Linked DNA regions of Homo sapiens. The protein of the gene in region 3 interacts with the protein of the main gene of each other region in a biochemical or structural test. Each region holds a gene or a part of one and is shown on either strand. Other genes may lie near its edges. The genes, in order: CST5, CLDN3, CTSS and SERPINB3.

Region 1 (7,653 bases), on a different chromosome or scaffold from region 3:
AGTGTGGCTCTGCCTTGAGCAGAGACCTCGAAAGAAATCCTGGGTTCTTGGAGAGGCTGATGTTGGGTGAGCTGGGGCAGGTCCAGGGCTTCTCAGCTAACAGGCATTTAATTCCTTCTAATGTGCTCAGAGTGGCTGTGGCTGCAGGCAGGTGCCTGAGGCTGGGGTTAGACAGAGCCCCTTCTTTCTGACCAGAACCCAGCCCAGCAGCTTCTTCCTCCAGTCCAACAGACAACACCCCAAAGCAGGCAGAGTTGACCTCCCAGTAACCATTACCAAGCTAAAGTCTTCCTAGCAAAACAAATTCATCACCCCTATCCACACCACTCCATCTGCACACACATAGGCATCTATATTAACTCACAGCAACCCTCACCCAAACGAATATATGCATGAACCCACATACTCCTTCACACATCCACACACATGCACACACACACTCCTGTGCATCTTCCTCATGTATGCACACATATGCATCTTTCTACATGCATAGCCACATGTGTACACCATCCCACACATTCATTCATGCATACACAAAACTCCATATGCACAAACACATTCATTGACTTCACAATACACATCTGCACATGTGTGCCAAACACACATGCATCCTCCCATGCACATGAATACATCCTTGCATACGTGGCCCCACAAATATCTGCACACATGCACACATGCCCTCCAAAGCATGTGCAGGAGTACAGATGCGTGCACACACACATACACACACACACATGCACACACTGCTCTGCGGTACTTGATGCCCCTGACCCACATCAGGCACATACCTCTTTCAGTTTTGGCTGGTCATTGAAGGGACAGTTGTCCAAGTTGGGCTGGGACTTGGTGCATGTGGTTCGACCGAACTTCACATTGAAGTAGTAGTTCACCCCACCCACGATCTACACGCGTGGAAGAGCAGGAAGCAGGGGCAGCATGCTGTCAGTTTCATGCACACGCAGGCACTTCACTGTGACTGAGTCACTGGGCTTGCCTGGGGCTTCATGCCCACACTGTCACCCAAAAGGCACACAAGCCACCTTCTCCTGCTGGCTGGCAGTGGTAGTGTGTCCCAGTCCTTCCTAGTAACTTGTTTTCTCTGGGTATCTCAAGCAAGCTGTCTCATGCAGCCCAGTAGAAAGAGAAGCAGGGGCAGGGCAGATGGAAGCCAGGGCCTAAAACCCCCTTCACTGGATTCAGGAACAGAAGGCACAGCTCTGGGGAACCAGCCAGGGTGGGACAAAGAAACAGTCCTGGCACCAGGCTTGCAGGGCAGGGTCTAAGCACCAAGTGAATGCTCTTTCCCACAGCAAAGGATTAACTGAATTCTGCTACCTGTGCTCAGGGGGCAGGGACACTGGTCCCATCCTAGGAAGGCTGCCACCTGATGATGAAATTTCAGCTAACTTCCAGCTCCTGGCATTCAGTCCACAGAGCATCTCATTCCTGCCATTTAACCCAGAGGTATTTTTCCTCATTTCTCAGTAGGAGATGAGATGCTCACATACATTGATGTTTTAGGCCAATAAACATTGCCTCCTGCATGCCTCCATTCCAGGTGTGATTTTCAAGGCAATATTTCTAAAGTGAGTCACACACCTGCATGTCTTAGGGTTGCAACTTCAGAAGAGAACTGAATGCTTTCCCTGCACAGTGCCGCCCCAAAACATGACTTGTCAGAACTGTGGAGAAGCATGGGATGAGGGACCCTGGGACCAGGGTGCTAGACCTTGCCCTGTGGAACCACACACAAGTCCTGTAGAACCACATGGAAGTCCTGTGATCCCTCCGGTGTCAGTCTGCTGCTCTGTAAAATAGGCTCCAGGGCCCAACGATCTACATCATTCTGTGCTTCACTCCCAGTGAGTGACACACTTAAGAGGGAGTGCAGGCCAGCAGGGACCACAGCACCAGGGAATGCCCCTCCTGTGCAGGGAGAGGGCTGCAGGAGGAGAAACAGGGCTGGTCTGGACTCCTCTGACTTTCCAAGAGAAGGTGGAGGAGCTCTAAAGGCTGGCAGGCCATATAGCCCTGTGGTCGCTGTGTCACTGCTGCTCTGCCATGGGACGTAGGTCAAGCTGGGCTCGGTAGCCCTGCTGAAGCTTCCTCCCTCTGGACCCAACCACCTCCTTCACTCTGCTGGGTGATTGCTGTCCTCATTTTGCTGAGGTCTAACTCTGCGTTAGCTGGCAGAGGCAGGGTCAGGCATGCTCTACCCCAGCAGGAACTCAGCTGTCCTGGGCTGTAGGGGGTGGTCAGCCAGCCTGAGAGTGAAGGCCACTAGCCATAACGGGCTGTGCCCAGGGGCGTGACTTGGGAGGGAAGCGGGGCTATCCAGGACAAGGAGTCAGGTTCCCGTGTGGCCCCTGTGGAGAGGACTCAGGGAGGAAGATGAACCTCGTGGCCTGGATCTCATCCTGAGCAGCATCAAGCCCACCCAGAGTCAGCACAGTCTCCATCCACACCTGCTGGACCCTGGGAAATGCCACAGTCATGGTACAGACACAGTGGCTGCTGCAGGTTAAAAGAGGCCGAGGGGACAGGACAGGGCTGAACTCATGCACTCACGGCCAAGGAGTGTCCTAGGGCATGAAGACCATCAGCAGACAGTCAGAGAAAGCTGAATGAGTCTGCGGTTTAGATAATGTTGATTTGCTGGGAGTGCTCTGGGGGGTGAGGCAAAAAACCCAGCTGGGACTCAGGACCCCCAGGGTGGTGGTAGCACGCACCTGCTGGTAGGCAGCCATCACCTGCAGAGGGCGGCTGTAGTACTCATCCTTATTAATGACCTTGTTGTACTCGCTGATGGCAAAGTCCAGGGCACACTGCACACTCTTGTCATTGAGGTCTGTGGCATGGATGCCACCTGCCAAGGTCCTAGATTGGGCCGAGGCACTCCCGGCCACGGCCACCATCAAGGCAGTCAGCAGCAGCAGTGGGGTGTGCATGGGCCACATCATGTTCTACTGGGACACAGAGCAAGGAGCTGGATCTCCCAGAGAGCAAAGCAGCAGAAGGCTGAGGCAGGAAGCCCAGGCCAGAAGCTAGCTGTGCATTTATCCTACTTGGGTGTCCCCCAACCCCACCTGCTCCCTGGCCCCGCCCCTGGCTCCTCCTCCTCTTTCTACCCCTCCTCTTCTGTCTCTATCTCCCTTTCCACCCCCAACCACCTCCCTCCCTCCCTAAGTTCCCTTCGCTCCTCCCATGCCTCCTCCTCATCCTCCTCCCCACTCCTGTCCTGACCGCAACCTCCCCACAGCCCTGCCCCTCTTCCTCAGTGCTCTAAAGCTTGGCTCACTCTGGATTCCAGAGAGGTGACACCGCTCCCTGGGCTGTGAAACCTGGTGACCACCTATGTCCACAGGAAAGGGAGAAATACAGGGCTTGGCCTTCTAAAGTCTTCAGATGTCAGGGGCATCCAGGAGCACGTGGTCATGGTCTGGGAATTCCTGGGGCAGGGAGCTGTTTCAGAAGCTCCGGGATGACCTTGTCCATGCCCTCTTCTGGGGAACTTCTTTGCCAAACATAAAGTAATTAACCTTTGGGTAAAGTTCACTGGGTTCTCGTTTCATAACTCCTCATTATTCAATAAACAAACCTGTCACCAGCTTCCCCCTGCACCAAGCAGTCTGGGCAATAGAGCCGTAGACATGAACTTGCAGAGCTGCCATCCAACAGAGATGTGACAGAAACCCAGGAGCAATTTAAAACACATTTGAAAAAGTTAAAAGATACAGCTGAAAGTAATTTTGGTATTTCTACTTTAACCTAATATATCCAAAATACTTCAACACTTCAGGACTATTCTTAAGGAGCTAGTTTACATTCTTTTGTGTGAGTGTAATGTCTTGAAGTTCCCTGTGTATTTTTTACAGTTAGACCAAGCGTCACTGTGGACTAGCCCCATTTCAAGTGCCCTGTGGCCACGAGTGGCTGCTGGTGGCTGTGGTACTGCATAGCCCAGCCATTAGGGTGTGTGGGAGGATGCAGAGTGGTGATCAACAATTTAGATCAGGGAATTATAGTCGCTCAGTTAGAGAGAGGGTGGGTGCTACTGGACCCTGGTCAGGGAAGTCTCTAAGAGACCGGAAAGGTTGAGAAGCCCCAGGCAGCAGGGAATAGTCAGTGCAAAGGCCCTGAGGCAAGGCTGGGCATGCCTGCTCCAGGAAGAGGAAGCTCCTGGAGGGGGTGTGAGCAGGGAAGGGAACGACCTGGAGTCTCACGGTAACTGTGGGTGTGTCCAGGTGGAAGGCGCAGGGAGACCCCTGGCAGGTGGTGGGGGTGTCAGGAGAAGGAGCAGCAGCCACAGGATGAATGTGGGAGCCCAAGAGCCTCTCTTGCTCCTCCCCTCTGGGAGACGTGCTGCCAGCACTGGTCCTCTGTACACTGCTTGGAAAACTCATGTAATATTTTAAAAATTACATTGAATGAGGTAGAATTTACACACAATAAAATGCCTAATTGTATGTGCCCAATCTGGGGGATTTCATAAATGCATACACTTGTGTTACCACTTTGTCCACACCTGTGATATCTGCCTCACCCCAGATGGTTTCCTCCTGCCTCTGAAGCCCACCCTCATGCCCACCCGACCCTGGCAGCCCACATCTGGTCCTGTGGACTCCTTTGTTGCCTGTCCTTGAGCTTCCCAGGAATGGAATCCTGCAGAGAGAGCCCAGGTGTGTCTTCGTCCTTTGCTCAGCGTGGCTTCATTGCCAGGATTGAGAGTTCTCCTTCTCCACAGACTGAGAGGATGTGGTCAGTTGGGTGCCCTGTGGGCTGACAAAGCCCCCAGCTCGGGATGCTGTGGGCCTGGACTGGAATGTGACTTCAGGAGTAGGGAGGGTGGAAGGAGGCTCTGAACAGACAGCTGCTCCCTTTGTTCTCTCAACCCCCCCTCCATGCCTGAAGGTGATCCTGCGGCAAATGCCCTTATGGCGAGGTGGCAGGCTTGGCCAGAAACACCAGGAAACCCTGGGCCTTAGCAGGACACCCAGAGGACTCTCCTGGGAGTGGTGGAGGTGAGGGTCGGCCAGGATCAGCCCAGACCTGCTATAATCCTGGGGCTCCGCCATGGCTGGGGCTGCATCAGCAGGAACCCGACAGCGGGAACAATATTACTCATGGGTGCTCATGTTCAGTATGAGGACAGGGGACCTTTTTACCCAAGGCCCAGTGACCATTGCACCCCACTGTGAATCCAGCACCCCTAGAAAAGCCATGCACTCCAGCAGATACAGCAGGTGGCCCAGGGATAGTGTTTACTGCTGGGTGAGGGAGGGAAGGTCTTCAAGCAGGGCTGCACGTGATGCCTCCTAGTTAGACAGGAAATTGGGGGAGATTCCCAGAGAAGGGAAAGAGAGGGCAGTCCCTGGCCAGGTGCTTGTGGGCAGAATGGTCATCTCCCAAGTGTGGGAGTTGGGTCTCCTCTGTGGCTCCCACCTTCCCTGGCCGCTAGGTCTCAACTCTCAGGAGGATGTGTTGTGCAGAGGGTAAGCTGAAATACATACAAATCTCTCCTATCTTTTATCATTAGGAAGGAGATGCAGGTCATCCACATAACAGGCATATGGTGGTGGGTGGAGTATGGGGTGGGAGCTGGAGTGCTGGCCTATTTCCCTGTATGTGATGCCACCGCCAGTGGTCATCCTCTGTCAGGACACTGGAATGAGCTATAGGGAGGGTCAACAGGCCTGATACAGTGGCCACTCTAATCTTTGTAGTCAGACCCCCATGTAGGGCACTCTCAGGAACTACAAGAGATGCATCCAGTATGGGTGATGGTAAGTGGAAGGTTAGGGTAGATGGACAGCTGCTCCAGCTGCTGGGTGACCTTGGGAAAATGTTTTGCCTTCTCTATGTGTCATGCATATGGAAAGGTGAGCTGCTTTGTAAATGGTGGTGTCTGGTGGTTCAAAACCAGCAAGATAAGTTTGATTCTGCAGTGACATTTAAGTGTGGTTAAAATTTACAATAGCCCAGTGTTATGGCATGCCTGTACACCTACTCTTGAGGCTGAGGCAGGAGGATCTCTTGAACCCAGGTGTTCCAGACCACACTGTGCAACACAGTGAGATCCCATCTCAAAAAAAGATGGAGACTTAGTTCCTATAGCTTACAGCTCCAATGACAGGCTGGCAGGGACCCAGAGATAAACAATGGACTCAGGACCAAGCCTGGGGCCTCCAGCACCTTCGTAATCTGGAGGAGTCCAGTTGCCCAGGAGGGGGCATGTTTCCTTTCTGCCAGTGGATGAAAGAGAAAGCCGTGTTCTCCCAGGTTGCGTGTGTAACTTGATCCCATGATTGAATTAGTAGAGTGAGAAATTAGGTGAGTGACAGAAGTTCTCTATAATAAATAAGCAGTAAAGGGAAACACTAAACAATATTATAACCAATAAATACCTAAGGGCATAAACATCACCTAAAGTGCAAGTGGTTAGATCAAGTTGGCCAAGAGTTGAGATTCTGCACATCCGGGTTTTGAGCAATTAACATTCAGTGTCTGTGATAGGAGATGGGACTGAGCAGCCACGGGATTTGTTGGCTTCTCAAAGGGGAAGCCCAGAATCCTCCTTTATGGAGTGCTGCGAGTTCTCTGGGGTCAAGCTTGTCCCTTATGCACACCCTTCCTCCTTCCCCCTCCCTGCTCCCAACTGTGGGGGACCTGAGATACTCCTGGACCATTGGCCACCATTGGTAAGCATCTGGGCTCTGATGGGGATGAGGCCACATTATTATGAACTCTGGTACTTGCTGTGAAGCATGCCCAAAGCCCCTACAGGAAAAGGGCGTACAGAGCCCAGGATCTGAGGTCTGAGAGTTTGGCCCTTTATGGAGGGAAAGAGAATCCTTGGGAAGTTTCCTGCTCAGGGATCAATGTGTAAACAGCACTTAGGATTTTAGATTGCAAGGTTACTATTTATTTTCTCAAGGAGTACATTCTTCCTAGCAGAGCCATGGCTAGAGAACCACAGCCGAGTGGAGAGGACAGGGAGAGTTCCTTGGGAACTCGGGTTGCTTGCTGATGCACCCAGGGACTTCCCCCAACTCCCTGGTCCCAGCCTGCAGGGGCCTGGCCCAGGAGAATACAGATGGCTCTGAGGGGAGAGCAATCCCCTTGGCATCTCTGTGTGGTGAGAGTTTCCTTTCTAATCCCCATTCAGGTCACTGCTGGGACTTCCCTGTCACTGTTTGTCTAACCTTAAATATCAATTCCTTTAGCAGACTGCAGTGGCTGTGGAGAGTGGTTCCTGTTCCTGCCTGGAATCCTGTTACACTCAATCAGTGGGTGCTGGAGCTGGAGCCAGAGGCCATCAGGACAGCCTGCCTGCTCTTGTGGCCCTGCCTGCCCTCTCCTCCTGTCACAGAGGAGCTGGATCCAGTGAAAAGACTCTCTAACGAAACTTTAAGGCTCCTCTGAGCCTTCTTCACTAGGCCTCAACCTTGGTCTCCAGCTCCTACCTGCCAGGTCTGCATTGCTCAGTTTTAGGAAAGAATCCTGCTTCCTTTTAGGGAGAATCCTGCTGTCCTTGGGGTCTGATCACCCTTGACATCTGATCAAGTTCCTCATCCCTCAGCTTTGATGTCTAAGGCTGTGTCCTGCCTTTAGCAAGAATCCTGTTTGGTCAGTTCAGCCAGAAACCCCTACCTT
Region 2 (6,388 bases), on a different chromosome or scaffold from region 3:
TCCCTCCCTTGAGGGTCCCAGGAAGGAGATGGGGACCCTTTCTCATCTCTCCCCCAGGTGAGAAGATTTGGCCCGGTTTTACTTTTGGTGGCGTGTTTTATCCAAACAATAGGTCTTTTTGTTTTCGTTTTTCCAATAGGAAATGGCAGTACGGAATGCGCTCTTTCACAAGGCGCACGGGAGATTCCGAATGTGTCGGGTATTGTGCGGGGTCCGGGCTCCCAGCACAGACCCAGGGGCACATCTCTGCCACCTTCCCCTCCCATCCCCAGCCATGGCGTGCGGAAAGTGCTCATGCCTGCTTCCTAGATTGGGCGCTGGCTTTGGCCTCACAGGCTGTCTTCCGAATCCCCAGGGAGTGGGCAAGTGACCACCCCGCCATCACCAAGCTCAGCTTACAACCCCATCTTCCCTCTAAGCTCCATCCGGGAGAGCGAGATCCAGCCAAGGCCGCCCCGAGGGGGAGCTCTGCAGGGAGGTGGAGGCGCTGGGAACAAGGAGGCTCCAGCGAGTGCAAAACGAAAGGCTTTTATTGAAAAATATCAAGTGCCCCTTCCAGGGCTGCCGGTCCCTGCCCAGCGCGAGCATGGGGGCAGCGGCCCGATGGGGCTCGACGGGGTGGTCAAGTATTGGCGGTCACCCAGGCCCCGTGCTCCAGAAGGGTGAGGTTTCACAGTCCATGCAGGTTGGTCCCTGGGCCCCGAAGTCGACTGCCCGGCCCGCAAAGCCGTGGCTGCTGGGGAAGCTGCCCCAGTCCAGCGCGGGGGCTTCCTGGCTTCTGGGGGTGGGCTGGCCTCCGAGGCAAGGCTGCACGCTGGATGGCCTGGTGCGCGCTCCAGCTCGCGGTGGTGGTGGTGGTGTTGGTGGTGGTGGTGGTGGTGGGGTCTCCCTGCGTCTGTCCCTTAGACGTAGTCCTTGCGGTCGTAGCCTGTGCCCAGGCTGGCTCCCGGGCCGGTGGAGCGCGGCGCGGAGTAGACGACCTTGGTGGCCGTGTACTTCTTCTCGCGTGGGGGACACGAGCAGCAGAGCAGCGCGCCCCCCAGCAGCTGCAGCGCCGCGGCCGCCCAGCCCACGTACAGGCCCGCGCCCATCTCGCGCTTCTGCGCCTCGGGCACCACGGGGTTGTAGAAGTCCCGGATAATGGTGTTGGCCGACCAGGACACCGGCACGAGGGTGAGCAGGGCGGCGAGAAGGAACAGCACGCCTGCCACGATGGTGATCTTGGCCTTGGCCGTGTCGTCCTGCACGCAGTTGGTGCACTGGGCGCCCACCAGCGCCACTAGCAGCCCGAAGGCGGCCAGCAGGATGGCCACCACGATGAGGGCGCGGGCCGCCTGAAGGTCCTGTGGCAGTGCCAGCAGCGAGTCGTACACCTTGCACTGCATCTGGCCGGTGCTCTGCACCACGCAGTTCATCCACAGGCCCTCCCAGATGTTCTGCGACGTGATGATGTTGCTGCCGATGAAGGCCGACACGCGCCACATGGGCAACGCGCAGCACACGATGGTGCCCAGCCAGCCCAGCACGGCCAGCGCGGTGCCCGTGATCTCCAGGCCCATGGACATGGCTGCCGCGGCAAGGCCCGCTCCACCGGGTGGCTCCGGGTGCGGGGAGACGAGGGGCCGGGGCCGCTGGGCCTGGCGGGAGCTGCGGCGCCCCGACGGACGGACGGACGGACGGACTGACTCACCGACGGCGCGCGCTAACGGCTCGGCTCCATACGCTCTCGCCGCGGCTGCGCCTGCACCTGCCTGTGGCTTTGTGGGCGGGCGGCGGCGACTGGGCTGGCCCTGGGCTGGGGCCGGTGCGTCTTAGCTAAGTGCCCAGCGCTCCGGTGGGGGCGGTAGGGGCGGAGCCGCGCTCTCCAGGGCCTAAGGACAGTGACGTGGCCCCTGCCTCCCACCTTCACCGAGCGTCCTGGGAGGAAGGACTTGGCCCTGCGCGGCCCACAACGCCGGGGTAGGGGGGTTGCCAAGGAAGGGCGGGACCTGACCCAGCCCCCGCCCCTCGGTCCTTGTCCCTCTCTGCTCGGGAATGAATTCTCCGGGGCAAAACCGAGGACGGGATGCGTCAGGGGCTTGGGGTGCAAATCCCAAAGAATTTGACACGGCTTCTCTCTCCTCACCACTTTGGGCGCTTTTGGCACGTGCCGCGTGGGGATGGGGGCGCTGCCAATTACCCCGGAACGGCGGGGCGGGGAGGACCAGGGTGGGCGTGGCCGCGGCTGTTTGCAGGAGCCGCGCACCTGCTGCTCTGCCCCTCCCGTACACACGTCGCACAGGCTCAGCCTGAGTCCGGGCGGTGGGGTTGTCCAGCCCAGGAATTGCTGGGCCCAGAAGCCAGGGACTGCCTGCGCAAAGGTACCCAAAAGATGCCCTTAAGCCTAACTAAGCTCAAATTCCTCTCCAGCTCTCCCTCCAGTTCCCATCGCTGGCCGTGAGCCTGCATGCCTTTAGCTAAGCTGCTCTCCCCTCCCAGAAGTCCCCCTCCTCCCATTGAGTCCCCTCCCCTCTCCGAGCCCTGTCCTCCCTCCCTTTGAGCCTGAGTCAGGGCTGAGGCCCACCTTAATGAAATGGTGGTGAAAGAGGTTCGATCTCCGCAAAAGTGGGAAATCGGGCAGGACCGAGCACCGTGGTGGCTGACTCCTGTAATCCTCGCACTTTGGGAGGCTGAGAAGGGAGGATTGCTTGAGACCAGGAGTTCGACACCAGCCTGGGCAAAATAGTGAGACCCCGTCTCTACAAAAAATTAAAAAACTAGCCAGGTGTGGTGGCGTGTGCCTATAGTCCCAACTACTCCGGAGGCTCAGGCAGGAAATTACTTGAGCCCAGGAGTTCGAGGCTGCAGTGAGCTATGATCGCACCACTGCACTCCAGCCTGGGCATCAGAGCAGACCCTGTTTAAAAAAAAAAAAAAAAAAAAAAAAAAAGGTTGGGAAGTCAGAAATGCTACACTCAAAGCCCTGGCTGTCACACCTGGACGATCGTTCCCCCTTCTTCACCAAGCTCAGAGCCCTTCAGATTTGGCCTTGGAGGTTCAGCCTGGGCTGTTCCTAACCCCATCCCCTCTCTTCCCCTCAGAGCAGCCCTTGCATACCACATGCCCCTGCCTCAGAGTCCCTGCACTTACTGTCCCCTGTACATGGAACATGCCTGCAGACATCCACATAGCTTACTCCTAACTGCCTTCAGCTTTTTGCTCTCAGTGAGTCTTTCCCTGACCACCCTATTTAAAACTGCAGCTTCTGGCTGGGTACGGTGGCTCACGCCTGTAATCCCAGCACTTTGGGAGGCTGAGGCGGGTGGATCACTTGAGGTAAGGAGTTCCAGACCAGCCTGGCCAACGTGGCGAAATCCCGTCTCTACTAAAAATGCAAAAATTAGCCAGGCGTGGTGGTACACGCCTGTAATACCAGCTACTCGGGAGGCTGAGGCAAGAGAATTGCTTGAACCCAGGAGGTGGAGGTTGCAGTGAGCTGAGATCACACCCCTGCACTCCAACCTGGGTGACAAAGCGAGACTCTTTGTCTCAAAATAAAATAAATAAAATAAAATAAAATAAAATTGCAGTTTCTTACCCCACAATGCCTGCCCCCCTTTAATACTTTATATTCTGCTTAGCATGTAACACCATCGGACAATATTCTATATTTTTCTTATTTATGTTTCATTGTACTTAAAAAAATTTTAAATTGGCAATGATCGTACCTACGCGTGGCACACCCAGTGATGTTTTAATACATAGAATGTATAGTAATCATATCAGGGTAATTGGCATATTCATCATCTCAAACTTTTATTTCTTTGTGCTGGGAACGTTCAATAACTTATTTATTTATTTATTTTAGAGACAGTGTCTTGCTCTGTCACCCAGGCTGGAGTGCAGTGGTACTATCATAGCTCACTGCAGCCTTGAATTCTTGGGCTTAAGCAATCCTCTAGCTATAGCCTCCCAAGTAGCTGGGACTACAGGCATATACCACCAAGCCCACCTAATTGTTTCATTTTTTTTTGTAGAGATGGGGTCTCACTGTGTTGCCCAGGCTAGTCTTGAACTCCTGGTCTCAAGCAATCCCCCAACCTTGGCATCCCGAAGTGCTAGGATTACAGGTGTGAGCAGCAGTGCCCAGCCTATTTTTTTTTTTAAACGAAATCTCGCTCTTTTGACCAGGCTGGAGTGCAGTGGTGCAATTTCGGCTCACTGCAACCTCCACCTCCTGGGTTCAAGCAATTCTTCTGCCTCAGCCTCCCAAGTAGCTGGGACTACGGGCACGTGCCACCACGCCCAGCTAATTTTTGTATTTTTAGTAGAGATGGGGTTTCACCATATTGGCCAGGTGGTCTCGAACTCCTGACCTCATGATCTGCCCGCCTTGGCCTCCCAAAGTGCTGGGATTACAGGCATGAGCCATGGCACCCAGCCAATTTTTAAATTGTTTCTTTCTTTCTGTTCCAGTATGTCAGCTCCATTGGGACATCTGTAATGTCCCAGAACAGGCAAGAATTTTGCTGGTTTTATTCACTGCTGCATTCCTATTGCCTAGAATGGTGTTGGGTACTCAACAGAGAGTCGATTTAGTGACTTGAATGAAGGGAAGACTTTCTCATGTTCCTTCAACCTTGCCTACCCAGGCTTTCCTACTGGCATAAATGACTGATAAAGGGATACTGCTGTGCTGAGTCAAGGGGGCTTGGTCATCTTGTAGGAGTCAAGGGCTCTTCCAGAGAGAAGAGAGACCCCATTGAGCTGGGCCTTGGGGTTTTTTGGGGTTGCCTCCATATCTCAAATCACAGGCATGCAGCCTGTGCCCTCTTCTGTAAATGCCTAAGCCTTGGAATGATAGAAGAGCAAGAAACATGGCTGGGTGCAGTGGCTCACACCTGTAATCCCAGCACTTTGGGAAGCTGAGGCGGGTGGATCACCTGAGGTCAGGAGTTCGAGACCAGCCTGGCCAGCATGGTGAAACCCCGTCTCTACTAAAAATACAAAAATTAGCTGGGCGTGGTGGCATGCACCTGCAGTGCCAGCTACTCGGGAGGCTGAGGCATGAGAATCGCTTGAACCCAGGAGGCGGTGGTTGCAGTGAGCTGAGATCGTACCACTGCACTCCAGCCTGGGCGACAGGGCGAGACTCCATTTCAAAAAAATAAAAAAAAAGAAAAGAAGAAGAAGAGTAAGAAACAGTGTCAGGGGCTCATGGAAACCAGGGTTCTACTTCTTTCAGGAGCAAAGGTCTTGGGCTGCACCTGTTGGGCAGGGCCTGGGCAGATCTGGGAGTGCCAGTCCAGAGGGCCCAGCTGGTGCTGGGTGGAGCTGTTCTAGAGGAAGTTCATATAACTCAAGTCCTCCAGTGGACTACTGGCTGCTACAGTTTCCTGGTGAGTGGGGGTGGCTCTGGGCCAGAAGAAAAGTAGACCCTCCAGGTGGTGTGGCTGGGCTTAGACTAGGGGTTGAGGCCCAGAGTGGTCCCCACTGCACTGCCAGTTGTGCCTGGATTGGGCACTGTGAGCCCTACGCCTGCTGGCCTTGAGGCTGGTGAAAGTCACGTCGCCTCTCTTAGCCTCAGTTTCCTCCTCTATAAAATTAGGGAAATGGTGTCTGCATGACTCACTTCCAGGGTTATGGTAAGAATAGAGGCGATGTTAAGTATGCTATAAAAGCAGAAAACAGCCAGGCAGGGCATGTATATGTCCAGAGAAATTGTACAGAGAAAAGGTAGATCTGAACTTGAGCCTGGCTTTGCTCTCCTGGGTCACGAGCGCTTGAGCCAGTCCTTTTACCACCTTGAGCCTCAGTTTCCCCATCTGTGAGACAAGAGTTGTCCTGAGTTGCTTGGGTTTGGGGCTTGTCCCTGAGCCTGGGGGAGGTGGACCTGCTGGGCAGGGCTGCACTGAGATGAGGCCAGCAGGACAGAGCTTCATGCCCAGAGGCCAAACTTCAGGGACTTTGCAAATAAGACTTTGCCTCTGGGCAAACACAGCTCCAATCAGCTTTTTGCTCAATACCTACCATGATTCCTACAACTCAATAATAAAAAGACAAATAAACCAATTAAAAAATGGCCAAAGAAACTGAGCAGACATTTAGAATAGAGAAAGAATGTATAAAAATGGCCAATAAATGTGACTAGGGGGCGGTATCTCACGGCTGTGATCTCGGCACTTTGTGAGGCCAAGGCAGGAGGATCGCTTGAGGCCAGGAGTTTAAGACCAGCCTGGACAACATAGCGAGACCTTGTCTCTACTTAAAAAAAAAAAAAATTAGCCAGGGATGGTGGTGTACACCTGTAGTTCCCAGCTACTTGGGAGGCTGAGGTGGGAGAATTGCTTGAGCCCAGGAGTTTGAGGCTGCAGTGAGCTATGACTGTGTTACTGCACTCCAATCTGGG
Region 3 (7,068 bases):
ATCAAAACGATGAAAGATAAGTGTTGGTGAGGATGTGGAGAAAAGGGAACCCTCATACACTTTTAGTAGGAATGTAAATTAGTACAGCCATTTGGGAAAACAGTATGGAGGTTCCTCAAAAAACTAAAAATATAATTACCATATCATCCAGCAATCTCACTTCTGGGTATATGTCCCAAGGAAGCGCAATCAGTATGTCAATGAGATAGCTGCACTTCCATGTTCATTGTAGCATTATTCACAATAGCCAAGATACGGAATCAACCTTATAAAGTGTCCATTAAAAGACGAATGGATAAAAAAGTGTGGTACATATTGTATTCCATACATAATGGAATACTATTTAGCCTTAAAAAAAAAAAAAGGAAATTCTGTCATTTTCAACAACATGGATGGGTCTAGAGAACGTTATGCTAAGTGAAATAAGCCAGGCACAGAAAGACAAGTACTGCATAATCTCATTTACATGTGGAATCTAAAACAGTTGAACTCATAAAAGTAGAGAGTAGAATGGTGGTTAGCAGAGGCTGGGCGGAGGGTAGACAGGGAAAGGGGAGATGTTAGGCAAAGAGTACAGAGTTTCATTTGACAAGAAGACTACATTCTAGCAATCTATTGCATAGCATGGTGACTACAGATAATAATAATAATGTATTTTATATGTCAAAATTACTGAAAGGGTAGATTTTAAATGTTCTTATCACAATGAAAGGATAAGTATGTGAGGTGCTGAATAGGTTAATTAGCCTAATTTAATCATTCTGCAATGTATATTTGTATCATAACATCACATTGTACTCCATAAATAGACACAATTATTATTTAATTATAAATAAATAAAAATAAAACTTAGAGTGTATGACCTAAGAGTGTCATTTTTATACAAAATAATATGTCAAATAAATAAATATATGATGCTAGCTTACAAACAGAAATATTACATAGTTACAGGACTTAGTTATTTAAAGCAGTAGGGTTAAGGTCTTAACATCAGCAAGTGTGCTTTGAAATAAAAACAAAAGTACAAAATGGGAAGTGATAGTCAAGAAACAATATCTGGCCACACTATGTGGGTATTAACGCCTTTTCGCTCCTCAGCCATCCCAAATGTGGCCCTTCCTCAGGAGCTTGTGCTGATTTGCCCTTGGCCTGAGACCTTCACTCTATTATGTATTTTGCTTGCTCCCTGGCTTCCATCAATTCTCTGCTCAAATGGCACCCTTATCCGTGAGGCCTTCCCTAACCCTCCTGTCATATAGATAGACTTCTTACCACCACCACCACCCAGGGCCCTTCCTACTCTCCATGCCTTCTGTTATTTTTATCTACAACACTTATCACCATCTAGCATACTACATATCTGCTTGTTTATTTTCTTATTTCCTGTCTCTCTCACTATAATATAAGCTCCATAACAGGAATTTTGTTTTGATTCCTGCTGTATGGTACCAAGAACAGTATCTGGCAAGAAACAAGTACATAATATTTATTTATTTATTTTTGAGATGGAGTCTCACTCTGTCACCCAGGCTGGAATGCAATGGCACAATCTTGGCTCACTGCAACCTCCGCCTTCCCGGCTCAAGTGATTCTCTTGCCTCAGCCTCCCGAGTAGCTGGGATTACAGGCGCCCACCACCACATCCAGCTAATTTTTGTATTTTTAGTAGAGATGGGGTTTCGCCATGTTGGCTAGGCTGGTCTCGAACTCCTGACCTCAGGTGATCCGCTCACCTTGGCCTTCCAAAGGGCTAGGATTACAGGCGCGAGCCACCACACCCAGCTTAAATATTTACTGAAAACACTGCCTGTAAGAACACAATTTTAAGAGGTAGAAAACAGTACTCCTTTAAAAGCATATCGCTCGAGTGGCAATCCAATCTACCTTTTCCTTGTATTGTTTGCCATAGGTTTTCTTCCAGAGATGCCAGTGGTGATCCAGGGTAGGATCTTTATGCAACTGTGCCACTGCAGAGGAGCACACCAAGAGCACACAAACCAGCCGTTTCATTCTGTGTAAGGAAAGGTAACATAGGAAGTGTTGCTATTAGCTGCATATGTTGTGACCACATGTTTTCATAAGAGAAAATAACAATGCAAAGTCTATCAAAGGGACAGACTATTATAAACAGAATTATACAGGAAAATTCCTGGGATATATAGTCACAGGGAACAGCTGCAGATTTATGTCAGAAATACTACTTCCAATGCTTAGTAGCACTTTAAAAAGTGATTTCCAGGAATTTCCCAATATCTGGTAAACCAAACACATCTAGAGGGTTAGAAAACAGGGACTTTCCAGGATTTGCCAACAAATCTAATCAAAGGAAATCTCTTTCTCTCTCTCTCAAAAAAAAAAAAAAATCATCCTTAAGAGAGACAAACCTCTGAAAAATCAGTTTATCTCCTGAATTTTTGAATACATGGGCTCTTCTTAACTGACCTGTTTAAATATCCACAGTCTTTACAGATAGTTAAAAGACAATTCTCATCTATTGCTTTCACATCTTTAGGTAGGTAATTTTCCTTTTTACGTTTTTTTTTTTTTAATGATCAGACATCTGTTTCAAATGAGGCAATTAACTACTCTTTAAAATGCCACTTCTGTATTTAATTCAAGAGACATCAACAGAAATTCAGCGACTAGCTCCCTCAAACTGGATTCTACTTTCTTTTCCATTTCTTTTTAATTGAAAACATCTGGAATTTTAAACATGTAAGCCTTTAAATTATATTCCAAAGAAAGCCATGTTTCAGTCTCAACTTAGATGCTTAGATGCTCAAGCAGACATTAACTTTTTAAAAATAGAGAAGAGGCAAATTGAACGACACGATTTTTTAGTTTACTTCCTGAAACCAAAGATTTAAAACCTAGCAGGCAGAACAAGTTACAAACACAGAGTGTTTGAAGACCAAATGGGAGAAAAAGAACAAAGAGTACATACGTGATAGAACCAGCAGTTGCTCCCACAGTAAGAGTCCTTGAATTAGTGGGCTCTCTTCTAAGATTTCAAAGCAACAAGGAGATTTCAGTTCAATTGACTTGAAAAGAAATTGGAACTTGTCACATGAGGTACTCAAAATGAGGAAGTGAACTTTCATTTCAGTTTCATTTAAAATCTAGCTAGTACAGTCACCTCTAGTCATTTCCCTATGGTCTTGGGGACAAAGTGGATACAGTAAGCCATCAAGAAGAGCCCTTGTCTGAGCCCAGTGGCTCATGCCTATAATCCCAGCACTTTGGGAGGCTGAGGCGGGAGGATCACTTGAGGCCAGGAGTTCAAGACCAGCCTAGGCAATATAGTGAGACCCTGTCTCTGCAAAAAAATTTTTTTTAATTAGCTGGGCATGGTGGTGCATGCTTGTAGTCCCAGCTGAGGGGGAGGGTGAGGTGGGAGAATTGCTTGAGTCTAGGAGGACAAGGCTGCAGTGAGCCATGATTATGCCACTGTGTTTCAGCCTGGATGACATATCAAGACCCTATCTCAAAAAAAAAATTAAATTGAATTTTAAAAACACCAACTTTTACATGGAAAACATTTAGTTATAAAGAGATTTAGATAAAGCTCCCCAAATCCCAGCTCCTTGTATGATTTCCTAGGAAAACCTGTCTTACTGCTTTTAACACAACTCATTCATGATCTGATATTGTCTGGTTCTCACTCAGCCATTCCTTCGTTCATCAAACTCAAAATGTCTTTATTAATATATACTATATGTATAGTTTAGTAATATGCGTGTGTGTGTGTGTGTGTGTGTGTATGTGTTAGTATATTCATGGAAAAAAGGATACACTCAAATATATCCAATTGAGAATGATTACCTGGGTGGGGTGGGAGCAAGACGAACTATCATCTTTTAAATTTGCATTTTCCTAATTACTAATGAGGTTGAGGATCTTTTCACACATTTATTGACCGTTTGAATTTTCTGTGAATTTCCTGTTCATCTTTTTTGCTCATTTTTCTATTGTATTGTTGCATTTTCTTAGTGATTTGTGGGAGGTGTGTGTGTGTGTGTGTGTTGTGTGTTTTCCGAGACGGAGTCGTGCTTTGTCTCCCATGCTGGAGTGCATTGGTGCGATCTTGGCTCACTGCAACATCCACCTCCCAGGTTCAAGCGATTCTCTGCCTCAGACTCCCAAGTAGCTGGGATTACAGGCACCTGCCAGCATGTCCAGCTAATTTTTGTATTTTTAGTAGAGACAGGGTTTCACCATCTTGGCCAGGCTGGTCTTGAACTCTTCACCTCGTGATCCACCCGCCTCAGCCTCCCAAAGTGCTGGGATTACAGGTGTGAGCCACCGTGCCCGGCCAAGGTGTATGTGTTTTAAAAATATATTCTGGCTTCTAATCTTTGACAGTTATATACCCTTAAAAACATCCTCCCTTAGTCTTCCACTTGTCTTTTATTTTATTTTTTCTTCCTTTGCATAAGCCTATGAAATTCCACTTGTCCTTTAGTCTTGTTTATAGTGAGTTTTTCTATATGAAATTTTTTTATGTTGAGGTAGAACATTTTATTCAGCTTTTCCGTATAATCAATCTATACTGTTTTTGTATAAGAAAATTTTCCTCATCCAAATGTAATAAAGATACACTCATCTTATTTTTATACTTTCAGAGAGTGTTTTATTTATCTTTTCTATGGCTACTGCTTTTAGGTGTTTAATTCACCTGGAATTTAGTTTTGTGTATGGTATGACGTAGGGAGCTTATTTTCTTTGTTTTCCAATTTTGATTCTACCTCTATTGTACACCAAATTCTCATACATAGATAGGTCAGTTTCTGAGCTCATGAAGCTGTTCTTTTTATCTTTTGCTACTTCAGTATCACACAGTTTTAATTAAAACAGCTTTGTAATATGTCTCCACGTATGGTAAGGCAAGTCATCTAGGCCACCCTATCTTTGTTCTTCTTTTTAAACATTGTCTTTGTATTTTGTACTTGTTAACTCTTCTTTATATGAATTTTTTGAATCAGTTTATCAAGTTCCCTGAAAAACTCTGTTGGAGTTTTTTGCTTTTTTCTTTTGGAGACAGGGTTTCATTCTGTCACCCAGGCTGGAGTGCAGTGATGCAATCATGGCTCACTGCAGCCTTGACCTCCTGGGCTCAAGTGATCCTCCCGCCTCAGCCTCTGGAGTGGCTGGGACTACAGGTGCACACCACCATGCCTGGCTGATTTTGTTTTTTGTTTTTTGTAGATAAGGGGTTTCACCATGTTGCCCAGGCTGGCCTCAAACTCCTGGGCTCAAGCAATCTGCCCACCTTGGCCTCCTGAAGTGCTGGGATTACAGGCATGAGCCCCCACATCTGGCTATTAGAGTTTTTATTTGAATATATGCATAAATTTAGGGAGAAGTAACATCATTATAATGTTGATTCATCTCAGCTGTAGTAGACATGTTTGTGTTTGTAGCCATACAGTTTTTTTTAAAAAGATACTGCTTATGGAAAATTTAAAACACATGTAAAAGTAAAAATAGTAGTAAAATGAGCTGCCGTGAAACCATTGTCTTGTTTCAACAATGATCAGTACATGGCCAATCTTATTTTATTTATATTCCCACTCTCACTACCTGAATTATATTAAATAAATTCTAGACATTCTGTCATTTCATACGTAAATGTCCCTGTGTGTGTCTTTAAAAGACAGAGACTATTAAACAAATATAATACCACAATACCATCATCACATCTAAAATAAATGAACAATAATTTTCTTTTTTTTTTTTTTCTGAGACAGAGTCTCACTCACTTGCCCAGGCTGGAGTGCAGTGGTGTGATCCCAGCTCACTGCAATCTCTGCCTGCCGAGTTCAAGCGATTCTCCTGCCTCAGCCTCCCAAGTGGCTGGGATTACAGGCATGTGCCATCACACCCAGCTAATTTTTGTATTTTTAGTAGAGATGGGGTTTCACCACATTGGCCAGGCTTGTCTCGAACTCCTGACCATAGGTAATCTGCCCACCTCAGCCTCCCTAAGTACTGGGTTTACAGGTGTGAGCCACTTTATTGTCATAAGAAATTAAGACAATAATTTCTTAATGTCATCAGACATCCTATCAATGTTCACATTTTCTGGACTGTCTTATACATTTTTTAATAGTTTGTTTGAATTGAGATTTAAATAAGCTCCATATATTGTGAAACCATTGAGTTATGTTTATATCATTATGAATTCATGGATTTAAACATATTTGATGTGTTTCAATCCATTCCAGTTTTATCCTTATTGATACTCATATTGTCTCATTTTTGGTCTGTAGGAATTTATTCAAACTGGCTCTTTGGTGCAGACAGAGTTTGTATATTTGGCATAATATTAGTACTCTTTAAAAGCTTCCTTTCTTTCTAATATGACAGGCTATTGCAGGTTTGTCTTGAACAATTCCTGCCCCAGACCTGGAATCAGCCATTTCTCCAAGGAGCTCTGGTTCCTTTTAGTGGAAACAATGTTTAAATACCATAATCTAGGAACTAGCAGTGTTTGGGATAGCAGATTGACCATTGTTGCTAAGCCTTTTCAGTAGCTAGAGCTAAGAAATATCTTTTTTAAAAAAATTAAATAAATCACAAGCTGACACTGATACTTCAAATTCAAATTCAAGACTATAGGGTTTACTCACCCCATCAATCTTATATCTGCACTTCTTTTCAAACATGCTTAAAAAATCTGGGTTCTCTAAAATATCAACTCAAGTACTTGTTTAATTTATCCTGTAAAATTGCAGAATAACAACAACAAGCCTACGCCAATAAGATTGTTAATGAAAACAAATTAGAGGTTTTAAAGTGGAGGGGGACAGGTTTTTCTCCATTAAGCCAAATGTCGCTAACGATGTAAGTCAATTACTGTGTTTTGAAGTCACCTGGAATAGTTCCCTGTATGGTTATGCTCCACCTCCATACACAGGTTTATTTGTTTCATTTCACTTCTTCCTTTTAGGGCTTGCTTTTTACACTTATGTAATTTCATTTTATAATTATGTAAAACATTTATGTGGATCCAAAGTGAAATCATCACAATGAGGTATATTCAAAGAACTCTAGCCTCTACTTTTGTCT
Region 4 (4,233 bases), on a different chromosome or scaffold from region 3:
TCATCAAGTACAAATTTAAACCCATGGTCTTTTTTTTCTCTCAAAAACAACATTTTCTTCCATCCTTCCAGTCAGATAGCTCAGAAACTTAGATGTCTTTTTTTAACTATTACTTCCTAAATAATTCTGCCAGGCTGTTTCTTTCTCTTCATTTCCACCCCCAATACTCTAATGATTTCCTGATTTATATATGGTAACCACACTGTTCTTTCCTCTCATCCATTGATATCAGAGTAACCAGAGATGTATTTTCAAGATGAAGATATGATAATTTTATGCCCCTCTTTGACAAACAACCATCAAAGCCTGTAATGAGTTTCTTATCCCTTTAGCATAAAATAGGAAGTTCCTAATGTGGTTTACAAGGCTCCTCCTGTTCTGGGATATGCCTTCTACTCCAGGCTCATCATGAACTACTCTGTTTTTAATTTTCCTTTGTTTGTGATTAATATATCTCTAAATTGTCTTTCCTGTGTGTAACTGGACACTTTCCCTTTCCAGAGAGAAAATGTAAAGCAAAAATGATTTTATGTCACTATTTTATTGATGATGTGTTTTATAGAATCACAAAATTTAGAAACATAAGAAGGATTTAGGTATCACCTAAATTCAAAGAAATGTGTGTTTCTAGGTTGCTAAATTCAAAGAAAAAGTATGATTTGGTTTGGTTCATTTAAAACAGGTCACAAACAGAATTATATTTCAAATTTAGAAGATACGGTATTAAGTGATTCATCTTATTTTGGACATTTTTCCTCAAGGAGAATTTTTCTGGAAGAAAAAGTACATTTATATGTGGGCTTATTAAGAGAAAGAGAGAAAGGCATGCTATTTTAATCATTAAATTCTTGATGATGACGATCATCATCAAGATGAGAAAGAAAAGAAATATGAGCCAAGAGAATCTGTTGTTGCCAGCAATCAGTTTACCAGAACATCTGCAGGTGAACATTTTCCAAATGGAGTGACAGACTAATTGCATCTACGGGGATGAGAATCTGCCATAGAAGAGGATGCTGTTGGTCTTATTTTGCCTTATGAAGAATAGGAAAGGGTGATTACAATGGAACTCTTCATTAGTTGAAGTAGGTGATGATCCGAATCCTACTACAGCGGTGGCAGCTGCAGCTTCTGCTCCCTCCTCTGTAACCTCCACAAAGGCCTTGTGTAGGACTCCAGATAGCACGAGACCGCGGCTCCCGGTCATGCCTGAGAGGTCTGCATCCCCATTGAAGATATCCACCATTCCCATGGTTCTCAACGTGTCCTTGAGGTCATAGCTCTCTTCCACTTTGAACCGAGGTAAGTGTAAATCGACACGTGTCTCTCTCATATTCTGCAAACTTGTCCATTCCATCAATTTCTCAGCAGTGAGTTTCTCTTCAAGCTATACAAATGGAAAAAAGAAACTGATATGACTAACTGTTGATTTCTAATACACCTTAACAATGAATTGACTATGTGGAGAATCCTTATTTTGGCAACAAATGTGAAATACAGAAGGTTCACTTTATTAGATATTATTATTCTAATAGGCAAAATATGAGTCCTGGATATATAAATACATTGGGTTATATGTGTATGTGTATAAACAGAATCAAGTTTTTATGTATATGTAATGTGTACATATGTATGTATACAACTGTATGATACACATGTAAAAATATGATTACATTATTTTGTACACAATGAACTATATATATCACTATTTCTTGTGCCAACAGCCTACTACATGTGTCAATTTTTAATAGGCTCATCTTATTTTTCTGTATACATTATTTAGTACACATTGCAATTATTAAATTGCAATTCCCCAAATTCCTAAATTTCTATTCCCTTTTTTACTTGGTGTATTCGTAAACTTTCCTCACATTGCTATATATTTCTCCCAGTCAAGTTTAAATTGCTGCATAATAATATCATTAAATTGATATCCAATGCATGTAACTCTAATAAATTAATCATTAACTATGCCTTCAGTTTGTGTCAGGCCCTATGCTTAAATCTTTGTAATATGAAGGTGAGTCATCATTCCTCATTTAGAATTTTTCATTATTTTGAGGCAACTCGGTCACCAGCTTTTACCTTGTTTAAACTTGGTATCTTTGGAAAAATGTCAGGCAGTAGAAGGAAGAGTTGTAGATGCAAGTTCTTACCTTCTGGAGACCATCGATTTCATTTGGCAGCAACACAATCATGCTTAGATCTTTGCCTTTGTATGGTATTTCCAGGACCTTGGCCTGTACATCCTCCAGCGAGGCAAAATGAAAAGATGTGTATTGCCTCATCATCTGTATGGACTTGTATGTATTCTACAATAAATCAATGTGTCCAACAAATACCAAGTGAGACACAAGGCAAAAAGATAATATTATTGAGATATCAACACATCCTTCTTTTAAGAAATAATCCAAGAATGTAATGAGTTAGAGACAATAGCTTCTTCAGGAATTCCTAACTAAATAAAGTTATAAGACTAAAACAACAAAAAAACAGACATGAACAATTTTATTTTTTACTTGTCATGGTACATTCCATCAGAAATGTTTAAATTTATTAACATATTACATTATATAAATAAAATATAGACAATACCTTGTTTGGCCAAAATTTTTCCTCTTTAGTATCTTCTTTATTAAATTTCTTCTCCCACTGCCCTTTGAAATAGATTGCGTTCACAAGAACCAATGTGGTATTGCTGCCAATATTACCTTCAGGAATTAGGTTTTTAATTTTTTCTGCAAGGGAAAGAATAAAAGAGTCTTTTACACAAGCTACAAATGGCTTGTCTGGAAGATGCTTTGCAAATGTTCGTGACTGATCGTTAATTATTGACCCAAATCCCTACTTGAGACTCACTGACTTTGATCTTTGAATTGTTAGACTCACTGACCAGTGGTTCACCAGATGCAGCTTTCTTCAAGGCTCCAGTCGTATAAAGTTGCCCTTAATGGAGACATCACTTCTTGTGATAGAGAAGGAGTTCACGTTCTCTGTGTATGAATGAGTCCATTCATCTGATTTGGAATACTGATAAACTGATTTTGTCTACTCTTTCAACATGTGTCTTTCCTTTCTCCCTCCCTCCTCTTCCTACTTTTTTTTTTTTTTTTTTAACTACGGGGTCCCCATTCAGAGGAAGTAGGCCCTGACTGCTTTTTAGGACAAGTGACATGAGCTCTGTAATATGAAACGCATGTCCTGTGCTGTCAGACACTACTTCCGGGGGTATCTTCCTATTCACTCTCATGTTGAGTTGCTGTAAGTTTGGCCTGTAATGAGAGGTGGGAGGTAGGATAGATGTCTATAGAATGGAGAATTTGTTAAGCTCTTGCCCTTGATGGGGAAGAGAGCTGTGATAATCCCTGCAGAACTTGTGGCTAGAGATGTGATCCAGGCAGCTCTAGTTCAGATGGCAAAAGGGTGATTTACCAGAGAGCTGCTTGTTTCCCAATTAGTAAAGGGGAAGGGAGATGCTTTCTAATGTTTCCTTTTAAATATTCATCATAAAATATTGGTTCTGATTTAAAGTAAAGGACATGATCTCAAATTGGACCTGAGTGGAGACAAGGGATCCACAAAGCTATTGTCATCCAGGAACATGAGCAAAGAATCCTCCGGCTATGTTTTCTTCTAATTGGCTTCCTGTGATTTCCTCCTTGGCTCCCCTAGGCTCTCTTCATAATCATTTGGAAAAACTCTTCATCTGGAGTGCCCTCTTCTTCCCTCCCTGCAAAGCCATCTCAATTCCCACCCATGGTCCCCCATGCAGTTTCAGGCATAGGGCTCACTCGCATAGATTTCTCAAAGGTGTTTCTATAATGGGTGGCTCTCCTACCATTCGTTTGACTTTCCACCCAGGAGTTAATCTTCTTTCGACTTTCTTCTGGAGCATTTGCAAAATCAACAGATTCCACACTGGTCTGGTAAAATTTCTTGATGGCATCTAAATATTCCTTTGAGATATGAAGGAAGAAAGTAGGAAGTAAGAGTAATTTATGTAACTATATATTACCAAATTTAGTTATTTATAATTATAGTAAGCTGAATCCAGACCCTGAATAGATGCAGTATCTCCTGTCCATGCATATTTTTATACTGGTGCCATGTAGGCAATGCAAAAGCGGAGTGCGGGCTGGCGCAAGAAAGAGGTCACCGAAGGTCAATATCATCTGGCAAAAGGCAGAAGCAGAAGAGGCTGTGGTTTGCAAACTGCAGAGCAGGCTTCCCTGA

Evidence for each region.
Region 1: the proteins of CTSS (region 3) and CST5 form a complex in vitro, tested with the Homo sapiens proteins (one study listed by BioGRID).
Region 2: of the proteins of CTSS (region 3) and CLDN3, one has a biochemical effect on the other in vitro, tested with the Homo sapiens proteins (one study listed by IntAct).
Region 4: the proteins of CTSS (region 3) and SERPINB3 form a complex in vitro, tested with the Homo sapiens proteins (one study listed by BioGRID).

What each region holds. Positions count from the first base shown.
Region 1 is NC_000020.11:23,876,717-23,884,369, forward strand, and holds the start of CST5 (cystatin-D precursor), read right to left. Parts: upstream 3,033-7,653; 5' UTR 2,961-3,032; coding exon 2,730-2,960; intron 903-2,729; coding exon 789-902; intron 1-788.
Region 2 is NC_000007.14:73,768,485-73,774,872, forward strand, and holds CLDN3 (claudin-3), read right to left. Parts: upstream 1,787-6,388; 5' UTR 1,566-1,786; coding exon 903-1,565; 3' UTR 513-902; downstream 1-512. UniProt on the Homo sapiens protein: Barrier-forming claudin. Plays a major role in tight junction-specific obliteration of the intercellular space, through calcium-independent cell-adhesion activity.
Region 3 is NC_000001.11:150,762,754-150,769,821, forward strand, and holds the start of CTSS (cathepsin S isoform 1 preproprotein), read right to left. Parts: upstream 3,026-7,068; 5' UTR 2,945-3,025; intron 2,012-2,944; 5' UTR 2,011-2,011; coding exon 1,885-2,010; intron 1-1,884. UniProt on the Homo sapiens protein: Thiol protease. Key protease responsible for the removal of the invariant chain from MHC class II molecules and MHC class II antigen presentation. The bond-specificity of this proteinase is in part similar to the specificities of cathepsin L.
Region 4 is NC_000018.10:63,654,675-63,658,907, forward strand, and holds the end of SERPINB3 (serpin B3), read right to left. Parts: intron 3,957-4,233; coding exon 3,839-3,956; intron 2,739-3,838; coding exon 2,596-2,738; intron 2,313-2,595; coding exon 2,157-2,312; intron 1,388-2,156; coding exon 983-1,387; 3' UTR 523-982; downstream 1-522. UniProt on the Homo sapiens protein: May act as a papain-like cysteine protease inhibitor to modulate the host immune response against tumor cells. Also functions as an inhibitor of UV-induced apoptosis via suppression of the activity of c-Jun NH(2)-terminal kinase (JNK1).